Homo sapiens: one gene and its partner. The protein of the gene in region 1 interacts with the protein of each later gene in a pairwise test. Each region holds a gene or a part of one and is shown on either strand. Other genes may lie near its edges.

The links.
Region 2: the proteins of NAIF1 (region 1) and PAX4 interact in a two-hybrid assay, tested with the Homo sapiens proteins (one large-scale study listed by BioGRID).

The regions. Positions count from the first base shown.
Region 1 is NC_000009.12:128,064,521-128,068,644, forward strand, and holds the start of NAIF1 (nuclear apoptosis-inducing factor 1), read right to left. Parts: upstream 2,801-4,124; 5' UTR 2,582-2,800; coding exon 2,071-2,581; intron 1-2,070. Other genes in the region: mitochondrial adenyl nucleotide antiporter SLC25A25, read left to right, coding at 3,800-4,060. UniProt on the Homo sapiens protein: Induces apoptosis.
Region 2 is NC_000007.14:127,609,509-127,612,704, reverse strand, and holds the end of PAX4 (paired box protein Pax-4), read left to right. Parts: intron 1-704; coding exon 705-760; intron 761-1,028; coding exon 1,029-1,170; intron 1,171-1,498; coding exon 1,499-1,641; 3' UTR 1,642-1,719; coding exon of another isoform or gene 1,720-1,853; 3' UTR 1,854-2,413; downstream 2,414-3,196.

The DNA of each region.
Region 1 (4,124 bases):
CAAAATGACACCAAGAGGTTGGTGCTGTCATCTTCATTTTTCAGAGATGAGGAAACAGACTGAGAAATGTAGAATGACTTGCTAAGGTCACAGAGCTCATTCAGCAGAGCCAAGAGGCAAACCCAGGTCTCCCCAACAGCAGAGCCCGATGTGCTCCTGACCTCCACGCTGGGCTGCTCCTAGCTAAGAAAGGCACCCCCGGCCGGGCGCGGTGGCTCACGCTTGTAATCCCAGCACTTTGGGAGGCCGAGGTGGGTGGATTACCTGAGGTCAGGAGTTCGAGACCAGCCTGACCAACATGGAGAAACCTCGTCTCTATTAAAAATACAAAATTAGCCGGGCATGGTGGCGCATGCCTGTAATCCCAGCTACTTGGGAGGCTGAGGCAGCAGTGAGCCGAGATCATGCCATTGCACTCCAGCCTGGGCAACAAGAGCAAAACTCCATCTCATAAAAGAAAGAAAGAAAGAAAGGCACCCCAGAGGCTGGGTCACATGCTCTCTGTGGTACCATGCAGCAGGCATCTTGGGTGGGACTCTACACACGCTCTTTGCAGCCACATTAGTCCTACCTCCTTTGATGCTTTCTGCTTTTTTTTTTTTTTTTGAGACGGAGTTTTGCTCTTTTGCCCTGTTACCCAGGTTGGAGTTCAGTGGCACGATCTCGGCTCACTGCAACTTCTGCCTCCCAGGTTCAAGTGATTGTTGTGCCTCAGCCTCCCGAGTAGCTGGGACTACAGTCGCCCACCTCCAAGCCTGGGTAATTTTTGTATTTTTAGTAGAGACAGGGTTTCACCATATTGGCCAGGCTTGTCTCGAACTCCTGACCTCCACTGATCTGCCCACCTCAGCCTCCCAAAGTGCTGGGATTACAGGAGTGAGCCACCATGCCAGCCCTTTGATGCTTTCTTGACTTGACTTCCTAGGCCCCTATGGCGAAGCAGAAAAGGAGGTGGGAATGGGGCAGCAGTAGCTAAAGTACCCAGTCAATGTCTCCCTGTCTGTCATCATCTGGGTCAATCCGATACTTAAACATCCTTCCTGTTCCAGAACAGCATCTGACCTAGACCCGTGTTTGTCCCCCTTACCCCACCCCAGTGTATTCTTGAGAAATACGCATTGTGAGGGGATGGCACTCGCACATCCACCCAACTCCCCCAACCCCCACTGAGAATCACTGAATGATCCAGCTCACGGTCATCACAAACGAGCAGAGGTAACAGGGCACAAACTCTTCTTTGAACTAAAAAATCCAACCAAAGTTAGTTCTGTTGTCATTCCTGAGAACCACGGAAAGGATCCTGGCTGGGCTGTATGGGCCTCCGCGCATGTGGGAGAGGTCAAGCTCCTCCACCCTTCAACGCCAATGTCAGCTATGTGTCCTTATGCCACCAAGAAGCCCCCTTCCTCTTCCGGGGCCTGAGGTTTTCCCAACTGATGGCGAAGCTATTCCTATATGTGTCATCTCTGTCCTACTAGAACATAACTGGCCTGTATTTTAGACAACTTGGTAATCCCAGTGCCCAGCACAGGGTTTGGTACAGAATAAGTGCTAATGTTTGATGAATGAATGAATGAATGAATGGAGTAGATTAACACCAGGAACCATGAGGCTCCTGAGCAGCACCTGATGAAAGATCCCCCACACTGAAAACAGAATCCAGAATCGTTGTCTCACTTGGGCAGTATTATTCCCATCAATTTTTTCAACAAATATGGCCTGGCTGTCTACTACAAGCCGGGCCCTGTGAAAAGTCCTGTGGGGATACAGACACGGTCTCTTGTTTTCAAGGACCACCCAGTTCGGCAAGTGGAGGTAAGTCATGGACAAACATGGTGGCAATGCTCAGTGGCGAGCTATCCAGCACGTCAGAAGTCCAGCCCACGTGCTGAGGAAGTCCCAAAGAGAGCAAGATCACTTCTGTCTGGGTGCTGCTCTTGGAAGGCCTCATGGTCTTCCAAGACCCCCATCTGACCTCTGACCCTTGGCAGCCAACCTTCCCCAGGCCACCCCAGAGCTTGCTGGCCCTTCCCACTTATGCACGCCGCCTGGGCAGGAGAGGTCACTCACTCTGTGTCAGGGTGACCGTGGCTGCGGCTGCGGTGGCCGAGGGTCCGAGGGCCACAGGGTGGATCTCTGTGGTGCTGGGCAGGCTGATGATGGTGGCCTCGCCCAGCAGGTTGCAGATACGTTGTTGCATGGGGGTCAGCAGCACTGGGGCTACAGCTGGGCCACCGCCACCACTGCCACCGCCTGTCCCAGGCCCCCCAGCTCCGTCCTCCTCAGTGGGCCCCGGCGCCTCACCACCCTCCACGGCGGCCCGGACCTGGGCAACCTTGCGACGGACCTCGGTCTTGAGGTCAGACCACTTCTTCTTGACCTCAGGCAGCTCTCTGCGGCAGGTGGCCACGGCGTTGACCCTTCTCAGGATGCCGTGCCAGGCCGCACTCTTGGCGGCCAGGGGTACCCCGGCGTTGAAGTGGTTCACCAGCAGGTGCTTCTTCAGCTCCAGCTCCTCCACGATGATCTCCACCTCCCGCTCTGAGAAGTTCATCTTCCTTTTCTTGGCTGGGACGGCCATGGCCTCTCCCCTCCCCTCTTTTTAAAGAAATTATAATCCCCTCAAGCGCCCCAATTCCCCTTCTCTTCTTCCTCAGCCTCGCCCCTCACCCACCCCCTACAGGGGATAGGCCAGGCTTGCTCGAGGCCAAGCACTAGGCCTTTGGTAACCCCCCTCGCTACGCAAAGTGCGTAGGGCCCAGCCCCGACCGGCCCGGCCGCTGCCAGCCAGCAGCGTAATGGCTTCCTGAATCTGCCTCTTCCGCCGAGGTGTGCGGAGATCCGCCCACTTCCCCTCTTCCCGCCTCCCAGCGCTTCTCCGGGAAAACCGGCCTTCCCGGTTGGTAGCTGCTCAAATATCACGTCGATCACTGGTTCTTTCGATCTGTCGCTCAGCTAAAGAGCACGCCTGCTTACTGTAATTCGCCTGATCATTGGTCTAAAATTGTGTCCGTCGCCCAGAGGGCCCCGCCCACCTAACCTTTATTCACTTCCATTGGAAAATCATTCTGTCGTTCAATTGTCAGTATTACGACTATTAAGCCGTTAAATTCAGCTATTTTATTGGTGGTTTAGGGAGTTAGATTACCAAAACCCTGCTTCCTGAGGATACTTAGTGCTTTCGGCCGTGACCCATGGGTCAATTAACTTTTAATTCCTCCCACCGGCACAAACTCTGCCTCGCAACTGCAGTTCACAAATGCTCTCACACAAATCCTGTTTCCCACTGGAGGCTACGATCTCTCCGTACACTACCGCTCCTCCCATCCTTAAGATCCCGCAGTCTAAACAGAGTTAGTTCATCAATGGAAACTGGACACGGGGCCTTCCGCCTGCCAATCACATTACTCATGCCTATCGCTGCGTGATTTTCTCTCTCTTGGCCCCCGGCTCAGCCAATCCCCGCCTCCCTCAGTTTGAATCGGCCCCAGGCGGAGCCGGGTGACCCCGCCCACCCCATTGATCCGGGTAGTCCGTGGCGCGTGGGCTGTCCTTAGACAGGCTCCGCCCCTCCCTCCTCCCCATCCGAGCCTGTGACTGGCCTTCGGTGCGCCCGGGCGTGGCCGGCGAAGCGGGGCGCGGAGGGGCGGGGCTCCCGGAAGCCGCCCCTTCCGCCAGCTTGCCGGCGTCTCCGAGCCCGCGCTCCCAGCTGCAGAGCGCCTGGCTTGCCTCCCGCGCGGTCACCGCCGGCCCGCCGCCCCCGCTCCCGCCCGCGCCCGGAGCCCCTGCCTCGCGCCCGATGGTGAGCAGTGTGTTGTGCCGCTGTGTGGCCTCCCCGCCGCCGGACGCCGCCGCCACCGCCGCCTCTTCGTCTGCCTCATCGCCGGCGTCCGTGGGGGACCCCTGCGGCGGCGCTATCTGCGGGGGCCCGGACCACCGGCTGCGCCTGTGGAGACTCTTTCAGACGCTCGACGTCAACCGGGACGGCGGCCTGTGTGTCAACGACCTGGCGGTGGGGCTGCGGCGCCTGGGACTGCACCGCACCGAGGGCGAGCTCCAGGTAGGCTGCGCGCGTCCTCAGCACTGGCGGGGAGGGAGCCCCTCGAGGGCCGGGTGACAGGTCT
Region 2 (3,196 bases), on another chromosome or scaffold:
ATCCATCCATCCATTCATCCAGGCATCATCCACCCACCACACCCACCCATCCACCCAGCTACCCATTTATCCACCCATCTATCCATGCATCCATCTCTCCATCCATCCATTTATCCATCCACCCATCTATCCATCCATCCAGCCAGCCAGTCACCCACCCATCTGCTCACCCACCTATCTACCTATCCATTTATCCATCCATCCATCCATCCATCCATCCATCCATCCATCCATCCACCCATTCATTCATGCATCCATCCATGCATCTGCTCATGCATTCATCCATCCATCCACCCATGCATCCGCCCATGCATCCATCCAGCCACCCATGCACCCATGCATCCATCCATCCATCCATCTTTCCATTAATCTGTGCATCCATCCACCCATCCATCCAATATTTACTCAGCATCTCCCCAGTGCCAGACCCTGTGCTAGATGCTGGGCACACACAGTCCCGGATCTTAAGGCTGCACTGTCCCCAGTACCATCACTGGAATTTAATCATTCTTCTCCAGTTTCCCAAGGACCTGTCTTGGGGAAGAGGACAGTTTTGGGTTAAAATATCCATCTCTTCACACCCCTGCAAGAAGTGGCTGACTTTCCTAGAACCTCTTTGTATCCAACCTTCCTGCCTCTCACCACACTCCTCCCGTCCCTAACCCCAATTCCTCCTTCTGAGTGGATTCACTCTCATTTTATAGGTGCTTCCCAGGGGCTGACTGTACCAAGGGTTGCCCCAGGAATCATCTCTGCACAGGTACTCGGGAGGAGAGGGGAGTCTGTGCCCTGGGAAGACTGAAGGGCTCATGGGCTCTTCCATTTCTGGCCTGAGCCAGGATCTCCGGCTCTCCAGGGCCCCACAGTGTTCATGTCAAGAAAGTACTAACCCAAAGTCTACTATGTGAATGGTGCCCTCTGGAGTTGTGCAGGATACTACTTGGGTGGCAGGCAGCTCTGGGGTCCCGGCGTTCTCTACAGGAGGCATCACTGGAAGCTAAGGTTCTTCTCTTGCTTTTTTTTTTTAGCAGTCCCCTGGCAGTGTGCCCACAGCAGCCCTGCCTGCCCTGGAACCACTGGGTCCCTCCTGCTATCAGCTGTGCTGGGCAACAGCACCAGAAAGGTGTCTGAGTGACACCCCACCTAAAGCCTGTCTCAAGCCCTGCTGGGGTAAGAATTCAGGCCAGGCCTCAGTCCTGCAGGATGTAGGGAGGGTCGACTGACTCAACCTCCAGGAGGGCATGGATCTCCATTGGGGGTCATCAAAGGAATCTCAATACAGCTTTCCTCATTCTTTGCATGGTCCACAAAATTACGGAGACTAGTAACCCCTGAGTCTATGGTATCACTGACAGCCATAGCAGGTAAAGGATGTGAGACTGGGATTCAAGTGTGTATATGCAGGGTGGGAAACTGATGTCTCAGCCTCTCTCCCATAGTGACTTTGAGAGGTGGGGTGGGAGCAATAACCCCAAGCTCTCTCTATTTGTCCCCACAGGCCACTTGCCCCCACAGCCGAATTCCCTGGACTCAGGACTGCTTTGCCTTCCTTGCCCTTCCTCCCACTGTCACCTGGCCAGTCTTAGTGGCTCTCAGGCCCTGCTCTGGCCTGGCTGCCCACTACTGTATGGCTTGGAATGAGGCAGGAGTGGGAAGGAGATGGCATAGAGAAGATCTAATACCATCCTGCCCATTGTCCTTACCGTCCTGCCCATACAGACTGTGGCTCCTTCCTCCTTCCTGTGATTGCTCCCTCCTGTGTGGACGTTGCCTGGCCCTGCCTCGATGCCTCTCTGGCGCATCACCTGATTGGAGGGGCTGGTAAAGCAACACCCACCCACTTCTCACACTAGCCTTAAGAGGCCTCCACTCAGCAGTAATAAAAGCTGTTTTTATTAGCAGTAGTTCTGTTGTCCATCATGTTTTCCCTATGAGCACCCCTATGCCCACTCTAATATTCAACAATTATAGACAATTTGCCCTATCATTTATTTACATCTATGTATCTACCATCTAATCTATGCATGTATGTAGGCAATACATGTATCTAAACAATGTATTTGTCAATGCATCAATTTACCTACTCTATGTATGCATCTATATGTGTATTATGTATGCGTGCATGCGTGCGCGCACACACACACACACACACACACACTGACATTATATCATGGCATTTTATTCCTAAATCTTCCAGCATGCATCCCCAAAAAACAAGAAACTTGTCTTACATAATCACAATAATATATCCACATCTAAGAAAATTTACTGTAACTTCTTAATCTAAGAAAATTATGTATTTTTGTCATATGTATTTTGTCATATGTATTTTGTATTTGCATATGTATTTTGTATTTGCATATGTATTTTTGTCATAGCAGCAAACAGAGTGAAATGCCATTTTTCATATTCTGCTTTCCATTTATATGTGCTTTATTTATACATGCTCCAGGGGCATGTTTGCTTGGTCCTTTTGGCAGTAAGTTCCAAACCTTCTCAATTCTGTCCCTTCAAATAAAGGTCTAGGCCCTTCCTGAGAAGTCTCAGGATGTGGAGAAAGGGAGGAATATGGGGGAAAGGCGGTGAAGAATCGGATATTCAGCAAGGAGGATAGGCTCATCCTTCCAAATTCTTTCCCTTTTGAAAGTCAGGCGATGGATAATGATGGTGCAATGCTGGTCGGCGGGCGGGGAGGTGGGGGCATTGTTTACTCCTATCTGGGATAGGTACTGATCCAGAAGACGTCATTCAAGAGGCCTCTTCATTATCAAATACTGTGCTGTGCTGAACTGTGCTGTTAAATAAGTAGCCACCAACCACATGTGACTATTTAAATGTAATTCACATTAAAAAAAAAAGAAGAATGCAGTTCTTCACTCACATTAGCCACATTTCAAATGCTCAGTAGTTACATGTGGCTTGTAAGGACTATCGAGCATTTCAGTCATTGCAGAAAGTTCTATGGGACTGCACAGCTCTAGAATGAAATTTCAAGGGTAATAGAGCACATCTTGCCCCTGCCTTGCCTTCTATACTTTCAAGCTGGAGGTCCTGCTAGGCAGAACAGAAAGGAGCTGTCTCAGCTGAGGCCTCATGGTTGTGGTGGTAGTGGCAACCCATCTTGAGCTGCTGCTGTGAAGATGCTGGCTGCAGATGGGGAGGCATGGCTGGGGTTGTGTGCTCTGCAAGGACAGCG